Linked DNA regions of Homo sapiens: region 1 is linked to region 2. Evidence: fine-mapped expression QTL. A gene starts in region 2. The other region holds a variant in brackets. All regions are shown on one strand. Distances are between the middles of the regions. Region 1 overlaps TACC1 (transforming acidic coiled-coil containing protein 1). Region 2 holds the start of TACC1 (transforming acidic coiled-coil containing protein 1).

Region 1 (9,487 bases), 41 kb before region 2:
GTGGGGTCTGGAAGAGGCAGCATCCTGAGCAGGCGGTAGGAGATCAAACCTTAGATGGTGTTTAATGTCTCCAGGTGAGTGGGCTCTTCAGCCTGCCGACTCTCCCCAGCCACTCTCCTCTCTGCCTGGCCACATTTACAAACCTCACTACTCAAAATGCAACAACTCTTACAGGTGTCAGGGCAGGAATGTATGCCCTTGCCTACTTTAGCCATCTTTTCCAGTCTCCTAGGATTTAACTTTTTACATTCCTTAGTCCTTTAAGTTGCTTATCAAAAAGTGCAGAACATTTCACAGGGGTGTCCAAGGGAGAGAATGCAGTCATGGGTTCTTAGTTTCTGTTTCTGGTTGGGGCAGTAAAGCCCCTTCCTCATCCCTCTTTTCCGCTTATCACTAGAGACAGAAACTAAAAACTATGGCTTCAGGCTGCTAAAAGCCTAAAACAAAACCAATCAGAACAACAACAACAAAATTAAGCAAGTTGGACAAGCTTGTTATAGAATCTACCATCACAGAGAATTGGCCAGAAGATCTGTTTTAGGCCTGGGCCATCTAATATGTCTTTAATGAAGACGCTAAATCAATCAATCATATCCTTCCAAAAGGGCTTTATTTCATGTTTGCCAGTGCTTCTCCCAGTCCCTCAAAACATTCACAATTGAGGACCAACAAAGACCAGTCTATAGACAACAGAACTCAATGGACTCCCGGTTGCAAATTTACAGTGAGCACAGATGCCACTGATTCCCGTGGCTGTGGAGAATTCGCATCACTAATCTGTGGCAGTGTGCTGACTGTGCTCATTTGTCCTCAATCACAAGAGAGCAGTATCAGCCCCTGCCGTACTCTAACAGAGACGTGCCCAAAAAAGCCAAATGAACTCACCTTTTAAAACATTTAAAACTTAAAAAGAAAAGTTAACTTCTTACGTGAAAAATGCTGTGGAACAACAGCTGAAAAGCAAGGAGAGACTGACTCCTACCACTGATTGTACTCTGGCCTTAGTCCAGCCACCACCTACTGCTGGGCACAAGACCACATAAGAATGGACTTCAGAGCAACACAGATAAACTTAAAAAGTGAATGATGGATTAAATAGATGATTTTTTCATTCAATGTTTTGCATGGTGAAATTTCTTTATACAATGTTTATTCAATGTTCTAAGGAAGCAGAAATTAATTTATGTTGGGAAGTTCAAAAGGAGTTGCTTTTAAAAGGTCACAGCATATGATATGTTCCTCACCAGCTGGCTTCAGAGACAGTGTTTGCCATTTTTCTTTTTCACTCTCTTCCTTTCCACTCTCTTTTCCACGTGTTTCCTATCAACACCACACCAGTGTATTCTAACACAACAGTGTATTCTAGCACACTAGTGTATTCTAGCACTTTACAGCTTAAATCTTTCACGTTGTCATTTCATCTTATCCTTACAACCACTTTGATAAGGCAGATGGGTGCTACTCATTTTATGGATGAATCAGTTGGGAATTAGGAAGTTTAAAGTTTAAGAACTGAGTAAATGGGCTGGGCGCAGTGGCTCATGCCTGTAATCCCAGCACTTCAGGAGGCCAAGGCAGGTGGATCACCTGAGGTCAGGAGTTTGAGACCAGCTTGGCCAACATGGTGAAACCCCATCTCTACTAATAATACAAAAATTAGCTGGGCGTGGTGGCGCATGCCTGTAATCCCAGCTACTGAGGAGGCTGAGGGAGGAGAACTGCTTGAACCCAGTAGGTGGAGGTTGTAGTGAGCCGAGATTGCGTCACTGTACTCCAACCTGGGTGACAAGAGTGAAACTCTGTCTCAAAAAAAAAAAAAAGAACTGAGTAAACCAGCCAGGTGCAGGGGCTCATGCCTGTAATCCCAGCACTTTGGGAGGCGGAGGTGGGCAGATTGCTTGAGCCCAGGAGTTTGAGACCAGCCTAGGTAACATGGCAAGACCCCATTTCTGCAAAAAATACAAAAACTAGCTGGGTGCGGTGGCACGTGCCTCTAGTTCCAGCTACTTGGGAGGCTGTGGTAGAAGGATCACTTGAGCCCAGGAGGTGAAGGTTGCAGTTAGCCAAGATTGCACCACTGTACTCCAGCCTGGGGAACAGAGTGAGACTGTCTCAAATAATAATAATAATAACAACAATAATAATGATAATAATAAACCTTAGTTAACCCAAGACATCCAAAATATTATCATCTCAACATGTAGTTAATATAAAAAGTTGAGACATTTATGCTTCTTCTTTTTCTGAGTAGCTACAGTTCAAGTGCTCCACAGCTACCTGCGGCTAGGGTTACAATGCAGAGACTATGTGTTCCTCAAGTGAAGAAACTATCTCATTTACATTTTATCCTCATCACCTAACACTGACCAGAATTTAACAAATTCACATGGGCTTCAAAACAAATACTGAAAGAAACCTGAGTCCACCCGGCCCTCCACATTCAGGAACTTACAAGCACAGTGGACCCGTCTTCTTCCATCTTCTGGCACGTCTCCTTCTCTATGCCTAAGACAGAAAGTCATTTTTATAGTTATCCCAAGAAGTCGGTTCCTTTCCTCCCTAGTGAAAGGCTCTTGGAAACCCCAGTGCAGGCGAGAATGACTTATGAACACATGAAAAGCATTTTAAGATTTTATTTAAAAGGAGCGCTGGCATTTTGTTGAGTGCTGTTATAAGTCCATGACATTCAGAAGAGGAGCACATGGTTAGTCAGCCACAAACAGGTCGTCAGCCTTCAGGCTGAAAGAACAGCAAGGCTGCCCCCTTGTGTCCATTAAAAGTTTGGAAAAATGTGTCGTACTAACTGTGGCATTATTTCAGAAAGGGGACACTGTGTAACACTGAATGCTTTTTTTTAATCATCAAGTCGGAGTGAATTTAAATTCCAGCCCAGAAGGGTGGCCTTGATCTAATTAATGCAGCAGATAAGATAATAAGCTTTAAAATTCAAGGCAGCGAAACTAAACTCATTCTCCCCTCCACCCCTTCAAATGGGCTTCCTTGTCTCAGGTCTATCCTCTACTCTACTAGGGTAGAGGATGACATTTAAAATAACCAGAAGATGGCTGGGCACAGTGGCTCATGCCTGTAATCCCAGCACTTTGGGAGGCCAAGGTGGGTGGATCATCTGAGGTCAGGAGACCAGCCTAGCCAACATGGCGAAGCCTCATCTACTAAAAATACAAAAATTAGCTGGGCGTGGTGGCGCATGCCTATAATCTCAGCTACTTGGGAGGCTGAAGCAGGAGAATCGCTTGAACCCGGGAGCTGGAGGTTGCAGTGAGTTGAGATAGCGCCACCACACTCCAGCCTGGGCAACAAGAGCGAAACTCAGTCTCAAAAATAAGAAAAATAAAAAATAAAATAACCAGAAGATGCACTCATTAAAGTAAACATAAAAATACAGAAAAGCATACAAAAGTTTAAAGTTACAATCCTCCACATGGCAATCACTAACTACTATTGTTGTCAATAGCTAATTATTTAAAACACAAATGTGACCATCACTCCCTTATTCAAAAACCTTCAACCTCCCCCTCCCTACCTATAGGATCAAGCCCAGATTCCACGGTATGACCTTGTTTCCCACTTGGCCAGATACTTACAGAAAGCAACCAGGCCTTTTACCAACGTGGCAGCTTTCTTCCCATGGCTGTGTGAAAATCTCATTTCCTGGAGAACATCTAGTAAGTATCCATCAGGACCCAGCTTCAAGGGGACACTCACCAGGACACAGTCAGGATTCACCTAACAGGGCCTGTAGCCATTCCCACACCCAGGACCGCAGCCTCCACTTGCTTGTGATGCGGCTGATCAGTTACAATGTAACCACTTGTTTAAATATGTTCCCCTTGCTGTTTGCTAACTTTGAAGACAGCACTGTATGTACAGGGCCCCAGCTCTCTACATAAATTTTTATTGAAGGAATTTCCTCTAGTGAGGAAGAATATAATTCAATAAATGTTTACCATGTACTGTGTCAAAGGTGACTCAAAGATGAGTGGTAGTCTCTAACCTCAGTAAGTTTATAATATTACCTTCCTGTAATTAACACACTGCGCTAGGTACTGTGGAACAGGAAGGGGGAAAGGAAATGTGGGAGCAAAAGCATGCTGGAGAGACCTGAAGGGATGTGCAGATCTGTGTAAGAGGCAGCAAAGGAAGACACTTCAGATGGAAAAAAACCAAGGCAGGTGTTAAGAATACTCAGGATTAACCCCAAGAAACTGGGGGAATGGTGAACAATATCTTTGGGAAAGATGTCAGGGCAGAAGACAGTATTGGAAGAAATCAGGAACAATGCCTGGCATATTATTTTATAGATGAGAGACTGAGGCCTGGGATGAGAAGGAGGCCAGGGGGAATAAATTGCTCCAAGTCCTGACTTTCCATCTGCTTCCCTGGCTTAATGGCAGATCATGACTTTTAAAATTCTATACATAAAAGCCCATGAATAAAATTATGTTAAGAAGATCTGAGTTTTTAATAATGTTTAATGTAGTCAGGAACATGGTTCTAAACTTTTCATAAGTAAAGTTTAAGGCCAAGGATGTAACTGGGGTCCCAAGAAAGAGGGGCTTAGCTCTAGAATGATCTGATGAGTCCATCAATAAGAGGCTTCCACCCTGGTTAGCCCAGGTTCCTCATTGGCATGTTAAGAAAGATTTTACAGTGCACTGGTCAATCTCAACTTACCACATCTGTACCAGGAAAATTTACAGTAGCCTAGTATCATGAAAATAATCTCTTCATACTTTGGCATTGTGGCGAAAAGACCATGGAACCAGACTGCTTAGAGTCAAATGTAGTTCTACCATTTACTAATGATGAGGTTCAGAACACACTTCACCAAAATATGGTGCCTTCGCATTTGAGGACACAGCAGAAGCAGGGAGGTCTCTCGGCCCCTCTCCTGCCCCCTTTCCTGAAGCAGGCCATAAAGCAACCCCTCAGACCTTCCCCTGAAAATAGTTCATAAGACCTCATTACAAGAGGGGTCCTCCCTGTACACAGAGAAAAACAATGTCCTTATCCTGAAAGACACAGACACCAAGAGGAATTGGAACAAACAGGACTTGCTAAGTTCCCCTGGTTTATTACCA[C/T]AGATCACACCCTTCTGTCCTCCAATTATACTTCTGCACAACTATCTATAAAAGTACAGTTTTCCCTGTTCCTTTGGGTCTTCATTTCTGGAGGCTCTAATGTCATGTAAAACTTATATTAAATATATTTGTACACTTTTCTCTTGTTGATCTTTTGTTAGAGATGTCTCAGCCATGAACCTTGTGGTGAGGAAAAAGATACCACTTTTCTGTCCTACCCTAGCCAAGTGACTTTAATCAAGTCACTTAACTTCTTTGACTTACTTTGTTTCTCTGAAGAAGTGAGAAAAGGGTAACACCTTGCTATGAATGAGTATATGCAAAGCACTTAAAACAATGCCTGTACATGGTAAGGCACCATACATGTCAGTTGTTATTTCTCTAAGTTAAACAATGAGTATAACAATCACAAAAAAGTCAAACATATGACATATTTATAGGCCATTTGATATAGTTTAAATATTTGCCCCCTAAATCTCATGTTGAAACCTGATCAACAGTTGGAAGTGAGGCCTAATGGGAGGTGGCTGGGTCATAGGAGCGGATCCCTCATGAATAGCTTGGTGCCCTCCTTGTGGTAATGAGCGACTTCTTGCTGTTAGTTTCTGTGAAATCTTTGTTAAAAATAGCCTGGCATCCTCCCCGCCCCCTCTTCCTCCCACCTCTCGCCATGTGACACACTTGCTCCCCCTTGCCTTCCACCATGATTGGAAGCTTCCTGAGTCCCTCACCAGAAGCAGGCACTGGTGCCATGCTTATTCTACAGTCTGCAGAACCATGAACCAAATAAACCTCTTTTTCCTATAAATTAGCCATTCTCAGGTATTCCTTTACAGCAACGCAAATGAACTAACACACCACTATACTTTAAGATATGGCCATATTCACATAAAATTATAAAGAAATTCAAGCAGTCTCACATACATCAGCATCTCCTATACAACTTGTCACAAGTATCTCTACGTTCCTAGTACTTCAATAAGCACTTTGTGTCCCTTTTCCAGGTAAAGAAGCAAAGCATAGGTCAGCATCCTAAATCTATCCTTCAAGTGACCCAATTCTTTAATCTCTGTAAGGCTCCTCCTGCTTTATTAGGCTTTCAGGCATTTCCATGCTTATGTACATTAGAAAGATGAAGATATGCTTCCATACCTGCTTCTGAGGATGAAAACGCATGATTTATGGTAGACACAGGAACATTGGAACATTCAAAGTACTCCAGGTCTTCCTCTGGCTCACCTTTCACCTCGGCACCAGCTGATTTCTGACCACATGACGTGGATGCCAGTTTCTCCTCATCAGTAGCATGGCCATCCCTATTAGAAATGTCTGAAATCTGGGAGATCACTGCCCCTTCATCCTGAGAAACACAACAGAGAAGATGCTACCCTTTAGGAGGGCAAGCAATGGGGAAAAGTGACATCCCATGAATGGAACAAAGTAGACACAACTCCATACAGATATGTGAGAGGTTAACCACAGACCTGGGTACAAAGCAAGGAGGAAGTTGGAGTCTTTCAATTGTGAGATGCTGTTTTATAGAACCTAGTTTCTGTAACTTGAGTCTGAGGTTTTAAAAAATGATCTTCTCTAGGTTAAGTTTATAAGCAAGCAGTTTCAGTGGTTTAAGACAATGGTTTTCAATTTTTTTGCTCATATACCTAATTTTTTTTTGAAAATCTATGTCCCCCATTGCATTTTCAAGTGACATCTAAAAACTTTTTGGCATAAGTTTAAATAATTGCAAAGAATGTAATATCTGGAATATTCTAAATATTGAATTTACTTAATGCTATCTAGTTACCTTAGTGATTTGATACCATATGTAAATTTAAATGAACAAGTTCCTGAATAAGTCAGAAATTTATGTTATTCCTTTTCCTCTCTAAATCTGTATTTCCATCCCACTTCCATCAAGAAACTATCCAAATGAAAAACATCTGCATGGTTGAAAGTCTTTTTAAAAGTCTCTATCCAATGTCTCTGTGAAACTTTTTTCTTTAAGTCTTAAAATTTTTTCTGCTGGAGACTTATCACATTTATTAATGCACAACTTATTTTCAAAATATTGCAAGTTTTGATAAGTATTATCAGACACAAAAGTAAGTTGTTATATCAATTACAAAATGTTTTATTGCACTAATTCTTAAAAACTTTTACAGTGCACTAAATATATGGGTTTTGGGTTTTTGTTTTTGTTTTTTAAAGAAAACCAAAGATAAATTTCTCATAGTTCTTGCTGCCTACTTTAGCAAAATCTGAGGGAGAATGTTACACATTTGTTAACAGATGAAAAATAACTCAGATTGTAAATTTCCCCCATCACACCCCTTTTTTACATCTTACACCATATACCAAGTTTCTGATCCAAATTGTAGAGGAAAAGTTATGTTAAATTGAACTCTATTAACCAATGAATGTATTTCTGTAATAAGTATACTGAGAAAGTTTTAAAAAGAACAAAAGGATCTCATTGCAATCAGATGGGCCTGGGCTTCGCTTTGTTTTGCAATTAGTTTATACGGTCATGGATGGATATTATTTATTGCTAGAATGTAACAAAGGTCAACATCAATTTTATTCCTGGTTTCTATTTTTATCAATATAATCATTAAGAAACCTTATTTATATAAACAATAGATGAAACAGAAAGTAGTTCTGTAACATAAGTGCCTTTCAATTCTTTGAACCCCTTTCCAAGTTATGTGCCCAAAAAAATCTACCATCAAACATTATTTTTAGACCTATCAGCTGACAACTCAGGTTTTCCTCTATTGTTGAAAGCAATGAATTAGAAAACCATCTGACTTAAGAAAAATACCATCCAGTTATTAGAGTCAATTATCTTATTAGAACCTACACCAGTATTTCAGATCTTCCCTTCGGTGCCCTGGAGACTTTCACACCCTGTGGTGATGCATCTTTGTAGCATTTAAAGTGGGAATTTTACCAAAAAAAAAAAAGAGTCATTGTGAAAGGGTTCCCTTGTCTTCAGGGGCCTTCTCTTCAGGGACAGTAAGGATCTGGAAATTGGCTTCTTAAAGCTGAGTACTCAGGTACCCATTGGAAAGTCCTTTTGAACCACCCGCCAGGGGGATGCAAACTCCCACTGGAGGACCCCTGGTCTCAGAGACATTCTGGAGATGGGCACAGACTCACCCGAGAACATGCATCCAGGGCGAGAGACTGAGTTTCATGCTTCTTCACCTTACAGCCACTCCTGGAAAGAGAAGAAACACAAACAAGCCAGTTTGCAATCACACTGACAATTGTCAAGGTATGAAATGGAGCAGACAGCAGTGTGTGCGGATAGAAGCCAAAGCATACAGCACCACACAAATCATACATCGCCGCAGGAGAGAGGCAGGGACACCTTTTATGCCTCTGAGTTTTCTCCAGAGAGACGGGGTAAGCAAAGACCTACAAGCGGGGCTCATTCTCTGAAAAGACCCCCTCAGCTTGCTTCTATGAGTTGTCAAACAGTAGCACTCTGATGTCTATGGTTTTTAATTACACGCCACCAAAAGCTTTGCAGACAGTAGAGCCTTAGCAGCTGGAGACATTCAGTTCCTCTGAGCCTCACTCGCTTGGCTTTGACATTCATTAGAAAAATCATCACGCTGGACCAAATTCTTTAAAAATTCTTTATTGCACTAAAAGCCATAGACGTCTCATAAAACAGTTCCAGTTAGACTTGTGTGCTCACAGAGAAGAACTGTCATCAATAAAAAGTATAAAAGTAAAAATATGTGAGTAAACTGTTACCATTCCTATTAAGTAGTAAGATGGAAGATGAATGTCACACGCTGCACAAAGCCTGAAACTGGGGAAGCTTGAACCATCTGTTATTTGTAGATTAGCACACAACTTGTGATCACAGGACTAATTCAGATTCTGTTCTAATAAACTTAGAATTTCCAGGAAAAACACCACTGTGACCAAAAAAAGAGAAAAAATTATTTGCAACTTTTTTTCTTTTGTGAGAAAAAATACAAAGACAAGCACATAAGTTACCGGAATGTGCATAATCACTAGTTCATGATCTTCTTTCCCTAATCTTCTTACTGAGTGCTACCCTCTGCCACCAAACTCAAGTTGAGCTGACTCAGTAAAATTTATTAACTGTTCCAAGCCAGTAGCTTTATGCTACCAAAAAAGCCAATGATTTCCAATATTAAATAGCAGAACAGTCCCTCAAACCACTGCTGTGATGATCTTGGGGCCAAGCCAGCTTTTGGTATTGTCAAAGCGCCACGTGACACCTGCCAAGCCAGGGAGTGCAAGCTCTAGCACCTAAGGTGTAAAGGCCAAGCCCCACTCCCTTAGGTATGGACAACTGCAAGGCTAAGCTGACTCATGAAGTGACTGATGAAATGCAAAAAAAT
Region 2 (9,487 bases):
ACAAAGCCACAACCCCTAAGTCCTCCATAAACACACATGCAAACACAAAAGCCAGGCATGGTAGCTCACGCCTGTAATCCCAGGACTTTGGGAGGGTGAGGCAGGAGAATCCCTTTAGGCCAGGAGTTCGAGATCAGCCTAGGCAACATAGCAAGACCCTATCTCTACAAAAAATAAAAAAACTGGCCAGGCGTGGTGGCTCACGCCTGTAATCCCAGCACTTTGGGAGGCCAAGGCGGGCGGATCACGAGGTCAGGAGATCGAGACCATCCTGGCTAACACGGTGAAACCCCGTCTCTACTAAAAATACAAAAAATTAGCTGGGCGTAGTGGTGGGCGCCTGTGGTCCTAGCTACTTGGGAGGCTGAGGCAGAAGAATGGCGTGAACCCAGGAGGCGGAGCTTGCAGTGAGCCGAGATCGCACCACTGCATTTCAGCCAGGGCAACAGAGCGAGACTCTATCTCAAAAAACAAAACAAAACAAAAAATTAGCCAGGCATGGTAGTGTGTGCCTATAGTCCCAGCTACTCAGGAGGCTGAGGCAGGAGGATCATCTGAGCCCAGGAGTTGGAGGCTGCAGTAAGCTATGATCATACTACTGCACTCCAGTCTAGACATAGATCCTGTCTCAAAGCAAAACAAAACAGAGGATGAACTTGAGATTGTACCTCCTCAAAAGTCCATTCCTAGAGGATGTTTCTTCACCAATATATTTCCCAGCAAAGAGAAAGACCACCACAACAGCAGCAGCATTAAACAACTTTAGTGGGAGAAAACAGACAGATAGCAAATACAGACCAGCCCAAGCTTTACAGCTACCAGTCTGGTTATTTCCAGGAAATATCTTTAGCTAGAGTTTTATTTTACCAGTAAGCCTAAAACCTGCTTCTATATGTGGCTTCAAAAAAAATCTACAACCTTATCCGCCACTTAACTCCTGGCATACAACTCTTAGGAAGAGTCATTATAGAGTTTAGATACTGCAAGTTCCTAAAGCAGTTCCAGTATAAGAAAAGTCATTTCAAAATAGTCTTAGATGTTTCCCTGAGTTCAAAGAACTATACAGAAGTCAGCACAGGAGCCATGGGTATGGTAAATGTAGCCCACACGTTTGAGGGCCATTATGTACCAGGAAGCCAGAATGTTTACATATTTCAACTCCAACTCCTGACTAACTCCTCGTAAATCATTCTTCCAGAATGATTTAGTCTTATATAATTTATAACTGCGGTCCAACCATGTCTTGGAACCACAAAAGTATGAAAGACTATCTTTACCAGGAACAAAACAATCAATAATTTTGGGAGAAAGGGAACTTATCCAGTCCCAGAAATTAAACTTCAATATGAAATGACTCTGAAGGGCTTTCTGCCCACTGAAATCCTCTCCAGGCAGACCTGTGCTCTGGCTGTCTTTGCACATTTGCTGTGTATGTGTGACAAGGCCATTGGCGGTACTCTGGACTAGCTCCGGATGTTGCACCCAAGGACCCTGGAAGTCAGGGTACGACCAGGTTGATGAGCAATCATCCTATTGTTTAAAGACCCTAAACTGAAAGCCTTCATAATATGCAGGGTTGTTTCCTGGACTGGACACTCCTCTACCCCTACAATTACAGTCTGCATTCATGAACTACCCCATAGAGCCTTCATGATCCATAAACATTTAAAAGTTTTCCTTTTAGAGAGAATGAAAAAAATGTGAGAGTCACTGGTACAGGAAGGACCAAACAATTGGGTCTCTGTGGTTTTGGGGGCCTAGGTCATCCAGGCCTCTATTCAATTGGCAAAGAATCTGGCGGGATGAATCAGTCTAGCAGCTGACAAAACGATGAGGAAGGGCCGCCCAAGCTGATGGCAATTCAAAAAGGCTTTCAAACAGCTCCTTAACATGTGTCTTATGAGCTTTATTTAAATTTGATGGAAAGGCCACCAAATAGTTCTTTCAAGCTTCAAAATCTCCCTTCTGATCTGCCAATCTTTACGGAAGAAAAGGGAAGCTATGAGGAATAAGTGTTATCTTCATCACTGAGAGTGCTACACAGCTATGCGTCGCACACAAATTCTCCAGTATATAAGCTTGCCTATTCCCATGTTGTCCCTGCCTAGAACAATGGCAAAATGCAGCCTAGGGCAAGTTGAGGGTATTGCTGAATTCTCAGCTGGGTAAGCACAGCATGGAGCTATCAATTTAAAGCAAAACCAAATCAGCTTTTTGCTGATGTCATTTTACCAATAATTCCAGCTCCATCATGCAGTCTATTACCAGAGTAACTTGACTTCCCTAGGCAACCTACGAAGAAGTTGCTAAGCAATAAAAATACTTATTAGGGAGAGGAGAAAGTCACAATCAGCACAAAGTTTAGGTAGCTAGATAACTGAAAGCTGGCGCTGCCACTTCAGGGTGACAGTGCCAGATACTGGAACAGAGAAACCACATAAAAAGGACTTCCATCCTAGAGTCCCTTCTCCACACAGCAGCCCAGGGAGCCTTTTACAAAAGAAGCTGAATCACAATCCCTCTGTTCAAAGCTCTCTGTTGTGGGCTGAATTATGTCTCTCAAAATGATATGTTAAAGTCCCAACTCCTAGTACCTATGAATGTGACCTTATCTAGAAATAGTATCTCTGAAGATGTTACCAAGTTAAGATGAGGTCAAACTGGATTAGGGTGGGCCCTAACTTCAACGACTGGTGTCCTCACAGGAAGGGCACGGTAAGACAGATACATAGGGAGAAGATGGCCATGTGTTGAGACAGAGACTGGAGTTCTGCTGCCACAAGCCAAAGAACACAAAGGATTGCAGACACCCAGCAGAGGCTAGAAGAGGCAAGGACAGACTTCCTGGAGCCTTCAGAAGAGCAAGGCCCTGCCAACACCTTGACTTGAGACTTCTGGTTCTGATTTCAATTATCCAGGACTGTGAGAGAATAATTTCTGTTATTGTAAGCCGCTAAGTTACTCTGTTATGGCAGCCCTTGGAAATGCATATGCCCTCCAGTGGCTTTCCACCTTACTGAAAACCAAATCCTCACTGCAGCAGCATCTGGACCTCCTCTGACCACGCTGACTTCAGCTCCTCCTGCTCTCTGAGTAGTCAGTCCACACTGACCTCCTGGCTGGTCCTCAAACTGTACCATGAACCCTCCACCTTACGGCCTCCCTGCAGCAGGCTGGTGCTGTCAGACCTTTGCAGATGCCACTCCTTCTGCTGGAAGGGTTCCCACCTCAGGAACCTCCAAGGCCTGCTCCCTCAATCTGCCTTCAGGTCTCTGTTCAAGTCACCTAATCATGAATGCCCCCACTAACTCCCCTTCAGCCTTCCCTATCCCCACTCCATATTCCCTATTCTCTTCCCCTGCTTTATTTTTCTCCACAGTGCTTCACACAAGCTGACATAGATATTTTGCTTAACCCTTCACAGGTTCTCCCTCCACAATGTTAGCTCGAGAGAGCAGGACTTCACTGCTGAATCACAGTGCACTCTATTTAGTAAATAAGCATATGAATTCTGTTGGGATAGGTGAAATTTTATTCTGAACTGGCTGTGTGACAAAAAAGGTTTCTACTAATTAAGTGAGACAACGGAAGCTCCTGCAGATGAAGGGCTGGGCTCTGAGGGGCTGGGAGGGAATCCATGTGCCAGGTTTTCCTAAGTAGACTGAAGGGCTCTCACCACATCCCTGCATGGAAGTGGGCGAGGTGAGTGATTCCGAAAAAGCCTCTTAAGAACCTCCCTATCAAAAATTAAGTCAAGTCTTACCTGTAATTTTTGTCTCCAGCCACACCCCAGTAGAAAGCAACTTAGCCTGAGGAATTTGTGAAGTCAAATATAAACATGATCTTCCTACTTCATTACTATACATATTTTTTTAGGGGCTGAGGAGAAAGGCCTAGTAGGAATGTTTGATAATGATAATCTTATACTGCAAATGCACAAACTCTACTCAGAGGAGAAAGCCTCGATCACCACACCCCTAAAAATACATAAGCCAGGAGGTTTCAAACAGCTCTTTCTTAGTCAAACTCTCTTAAATGGTCCTAAATTTACACTTTTTTCCTTCCTTCATTGATATTTTTCAAAACTTTTGAAACAAAACAGGCAGGAAAAATGCAAGTTTTTCTTTACCTTGGCTTTTGGCCCCAGGTCCTGCCAATCCGAGTGATGGATCACAGGACTCCTTGAAAGGTGATCGGATCGGGGTTTCAGCTTCAGGAGTCTCAAAATTACCTTCAGAATCCGAGCTGCCAAGGAGGAAAAATGAGGAATTACCACTTTCAACGGTATTTCCGACACCCTTTGAAATCTACATATTCACAGAGGCTAAAAGTCCAGCACTTTTGTCTAACTTCACAACCAACCGGTCCTCAGCAGGGTCTGACCTGCGGGAGGCAACTGCGGTCTCTGAGCAGTGCCCTCCTTGGGTTTCTCAGGCTGGCATCCTGTCTCTCTGAAAGCTCCTCCATTCCCTGGAGCTTTTCTCCAGCACCATTTATTTTCGAGGTCATCCTTCCCTCAGACACCTGAAAAATGCGCTTTTCCAACAGACTCCTTTTGTCACAAGAGCCCTTTCCCAGAGGCTTTAACAATTAATACTGGTCCCACCCCCGAGTTAGGCCGATGCTAGGCATTCCTCTTTGCTCGGTAGGCCTCTACCTGCTGGAACTCCCTGGGCCCGAGGCTAAGAATGGTGTCACCTGCCTTCCGCAATCACGCGGATGACAGCCCGGCAGAGACCACCATTTCCCAGCAGCTGCCAGGGGCCTGTCATCACGCGACCTTCTTCACCGCGGCTGCGTTTTGGGTACACGGTAGGGCCCCGGGAAGGGCCGGGGAGCGACTTCTTCCCCACGGGGGGGCCCTAAGTTGCACTGGGTTAGATCAGTGACGTTGCTCCAGTGTGGAGGGGCGGGGGCTGGGGGTCGAAGCTTAGAGAAAGTGACCGAGGCCAGCGGGGATGCGGAGAGACTGCAGATTCTGGGTTGGGTGCGGAACTCTCCTAGCGAAACGGGGGCCAGAAACCCCACGGGAGGACAGAAGATCCTGAACTTTCGGACGCACACGGGGACCCGGCTCCGGGCAGGGACGCGGCACGGCCGTGAGGACGGTTTCGCGGGTGGCGACCACACACACGCACACAGAGGGAGTCGCAGATGGATGGAGGCAAGCGCGTCTGCATCTCAGCGGGGACGCCGTGTACTTGCCTGAAACTCAAGGATTTGGTCTCGGCTTGCGAATCCTCCTCCTCGGGGTCGCCCTCGGGCCCGCCAGCCTCGTCCTCGCCGGCGGCCCCGCCGCGTACCGCAGACCACGTCCATTTCGCCCACTGCACGGGGGACAGGATCTGCCACGGGCTGAACGCCATGAGCGCGGCTCCTCCGGCTCCAGCTCCTAGGGGCAGGGGAATGGGTGGGGAGAGCCTTTTTCCCTTTCAAAATGGAGGGAACCGGTGACAGGCGCCAGCAAGCGTTTCCAGCAGAGGCGCGGATGTGGTTAAACGAGTGCCGTCGGGGGCCCTGGTGGAGCGCTTCCTCCCGCCGGCAGCCGGCGCTGCGTCCTCCTCGGCCTCCTCCCCTCACGGTGCGGCCGCAGCGGGCCCCGCGCCGGGCTCCACTAGCCGGGAAGACGCCCGTCCTGTGGCCTCCTCAGGCCCCCGGCCCGCGGCGCCCGGCTGCTAGACCTCTGCTGCTCCCGCTCCCGGCTCGCGGACTCCCGCCTCCCGGCCGGCGGGGCGCGCATCAGCTGCCGCCGGAGCCGCGCCCCAGAAGCCGCCCCCTCGGACCGTACTACTCGCGCGCGCGCGCGGGGGCGGCGGCGGCGCCGGGGCTTTGAAGACGGCCGCGCGCCCGCCGGATCCCCCTACCGCGGCGTCACGCTGGTCGCGGCCCGACTGAGGGCCGGGGCTTGCCGGCTGCGCGGGGAGATTCGGTCATACCCCACAGGTCCGCCGGCGTCCGGGGCAGAGGAGGACCGTTTTCTGAGCCGGGGCACGCTGTCCTCTTCCTCTTTCCTTATTCCTTTTTAAAATTTTTTTAAACATTTTCATCTTGCCACTGTGACTTCACGGCGATGGTGATATTGGACTGCACACAAGCCCCTTGTTACCAAAAAAAAAAAAATACAAACCTTCGCGGCCGCTGTGGACTGTTGTTTTCCCCTCCCTAACCCTGGCAGCGTGGGGGATTTCAGCCTGTTCATCTCCATCCCTGGCATTCCCGGGATTTGAAAATCCCTTGGCAAAGCCACAAGAGTGACCGAGGACTGGAATTTAAGATGCCCTCCCCCTCCCCAAACCGCACTCGGGGAGGCTTCCCAAGTGCCCAGGTCTTGTCTTAGGTAAAGGGTACTAAATTCCCTGTGAGATTACAGCCTGATGGGTTTCCCATTCTCCATATTTATTTATTTAAAATACAGACAGGCGTCTCGATATGTTGCCCAGGCTGGTCTTGAACTCTTGGCCACAAGCGATCCTCCCGCCTCTGCCTCCCAAAATGCTAGGATTCCAGGCCTGACACCGCGCCTGACCCCATTCTCCTTTTTGAGATTTTCTTTTCGTAACTTCTAAGTCTTTGATTTCTGACTTATTTCGCTGCTTCAGTAACAAGCCAAGAGGCCTGGCGACATCTTTAGGTTTGAAGGCAATGGGAAATAGCTGATGTTCTCCATTTCCCATGGAGGGATTTCATGTAGGGATTGTTCCTCTCAAAACCACCAAAGCACCTTCTTCCAAGTGAATCGATTGCCTCAAACACCAGGCTTAATGATCTCCTTGCCTGGATAAGGTGTTCCAGGTGGTACTGTAATTTCCGAGTTGTGGTGCATCCATGAGGTGCCTGCAGGTTCCCACAGAGACAGCAGCTCCAAAATGTGCACGTTGAAACTTGCAAGAGACTAACCGTTGCCTCTGAAAGCAGTTGGCATGTATATTCATCGTGACTGTTTTACACATTTGATAACAAAAACAGGAGCAAAATACAAGATAAGGCTTGGCAGGGTAGTTTTACCAAAACCGAAGGGCAGGAGTTAACCTGAAGTCTAGAGAAAAGAAAGGGGTGGGGTGTCAGGATGCTTTCGAATTCATCCTGGCTTCTTCCCAGAAATAAATTGTCATGAGTGTTCTAGCGACTATAAAGAAGTGAACTAGGCAGGAGGTCCATGTGAAATATATCACACCACTTATCCAACTGTTGTAGTTTTAGGTTTATGCTTACCCAGTAAAACTTCAGGTTCTACAGTCCCCCAGGCTCCTGGATTTGACACAGGGTTCTGTTTCTGGGAAATAATATTACCCCAGCAAATCAGTAACTAGCATACACTAGGACCTGTTCTTCCTCCTGAATAGTTCTCTTATCTTTTCATTCCTTTGCATCCCTGTGGTGACTGACATAGTTCCCGCACTCCCCATCTTTCATGATCTACTGTAAATAACTCCCACCTGGTTTTACCTCTGAAGGTTTTCTTGCCTGAGGTCACCCCTGCCTGGCTGATCAGTGACTCGTGCTCTAATCTTTCGGTTCCCATTCCCCTCTATGCCCATCCTTTTGTATTCCTAGCCACAGTGAGTAGAGAACTCGTTGTCAATCTTTAATATGCCCAAGAATCATCCGCCAGCCTTCTTAAAAAAATCCAAATTGCCAGCAGAGTCTGGAAATCTGTGTGTTCACTAAGTGTCCTGGGGAACTGTTATCACAGGGTAAATTTGGGAAACAGTGCCTAGCTTGAACCAACTGCTTACTGCTTCGGGAACAGTCTCCCTTTGCCTGCAGAGGGAGCTTTGCGAATTCCTGGAACACACCTCCTCCCCCACCCCAGCCCACCCCAAGTTCCCAGGCTTCAGCTGCTCGAACGTCCTTCAGCACTTAGCTCAAGTGTCTACAGGGGGAAGCAGGCTCATTGTCCTTCCTTTCTATCATTTCTATACCCCGAACATCCATAAAGAACACTTCCTGTGGCCTTAGATCTGAAAGTGAAAGACAGCATTCTTAATAGTTACACAGGGACTATAGGCATAAACCAGGACTGTCTCCAGAAGACCAGGATGTAAGGCCATTCTACACTTAGCACACCATATATAACATATTTATTTACATATCTGTCCCACAAGCTTCTAAAGGGACTTTACCCCCCTTTGGGACTTCCTCCAGAAATTAGGACAGAACCACACACTCAGTAGGTGTTCAATATATATGTAAGAAAAAACAAACATTCTAGTTTACAAATAGTCCTTGTGAGTTTGGCTAAGGTGACATAAATTCCTAAAGCCTGACTCCCCCTGGGGAAATCTAGTTTCTGGGCCAGAAAATAACAGAACCCAGGACCAAGTGATGGCCCCAGTAAGATTAAGCCTCACCTATGCAGCAATTTACTTTTTTTTTTTTTTGAGATGGAGTCTCACTCTGTCACCCAGGCTGGAGCACGGTGGTGCAGTCTCAGCTGACTGCAACCTCCGCCTCCTGGGTTCAAGCGATTCTCCCTGCCTCAGCCTCCCAAGTAGCTGGGATTACAGGTTCCTGCCACCATGCCCAGCTAATTTTTTTATTTTTTAGTAGAGACGGGGTTTCATCATGTTGGCCAGGCTGGTCTTGAACTCCTGACCTCAGGTGATCCACCCACTTCCAAAGTTCTGGGATTATAGGTGTGAGCCACCGCACCCGGCCTGCAGCAACTTCTTGAGACTGGACTAGCAAATAAATGCCTAAGGTTTCTGAAAATCACTCCTCTGCAAGTTCTTGAACTTAGTGTAAGCAGTAATGAATATGAGTCCATTAGCTGGACCACTCCTCTCAGTCTGCTGCTCCTAGTCCTGGCTTCGTTCTTACCTGGTACAGGTTGCAAAGTCACAACTAGGAACACTCTAGCCCTGTCAGTGAAGACGTGCCATTGCCAACAGGAGGCTGTGGCCACCCTATCTGCTTTTCTGCCCTACCTCAGTCTAACCAGGCAAGGGCATGATGATGTCTAATCAAGACAACATTGCCAATAACAGCATCTGACCGCATTCAAATATGTTAACATGACAGTCTTAACCTTGCAAGATCAGATATTTACCTAATTATCCTTTACCTGTAGACTACAAACATCTATAGAATTACAATCTTCCCTCCACTACCCAAACACCGAAATCAGGACTGTGTACAATGCATTTATACAGAAAATTATAAAGAGAAGCTCCTTTCTAATTTTTTAAAAGAGAGGTGTCAGGGTATGTTCATAGCTAATACTCTTTCAGGCTGGGTGCGGTGGCTCATGCCTGCAATCCCACACTTTGGGAGGCCAAGGCAGGCAGATCACTTAAGGTCAGGAGTATGAGACCAGCCTGGCCAACATGGTGAAACTCCATCTCTACTAAGAATATAAAAATAGCCAGGTGTGGTGGCAGGCGCCTGTAATTCCAGCTACTCGGGAGGCTGAGGCAGGAGAATCACTTGAACCGGGGAGGCAGAGATTGCGGTGAGCCGAGATCATGCCACTGTACTTCAGCCTGGG

The links.
Region 1: its variant is fine-mapped to the expression of TACC1 in whole blood (INTERVAL, PIP above 0.99). The same link has a PIP of 0.9 or more in nasal epithelium.

The regions. Positions count from the first base shown.
Region 1 is chr8:38,824,143-38,833,629 of GRCh38, reverse strand. TACC1 (transforming acidic coiled-coil containing protein 1) reads right to left here. Exons shown (of 13, transcript NM_006283.3): 4 at 8,262-8,322; 5 at 6,255-6,462; 6 at 2,453-2,505. Among named protein-coding and RNA genes, the nearest start is that of TACC1, 42 kb to the right of the region's middle. The variant C/T (reference allele first, on the strand shown) is at 5,103.
Region 2 is chr8:38,783,462-38,792,948 of GRCh38, reverse strand. It overlaps TACC1 (transforming acidic coiled-coil containing protein 1), which reads right to left and starts at 5,713. Exons shown (of 13, transcript NM_006283.3): 1 at 5,206-5,713; 2 at 4,130-4,245. The coding sequence starts at 5,366. RefSeq lists a silencer at 5,450-5,989 and an enhancer at 6,030-6,109.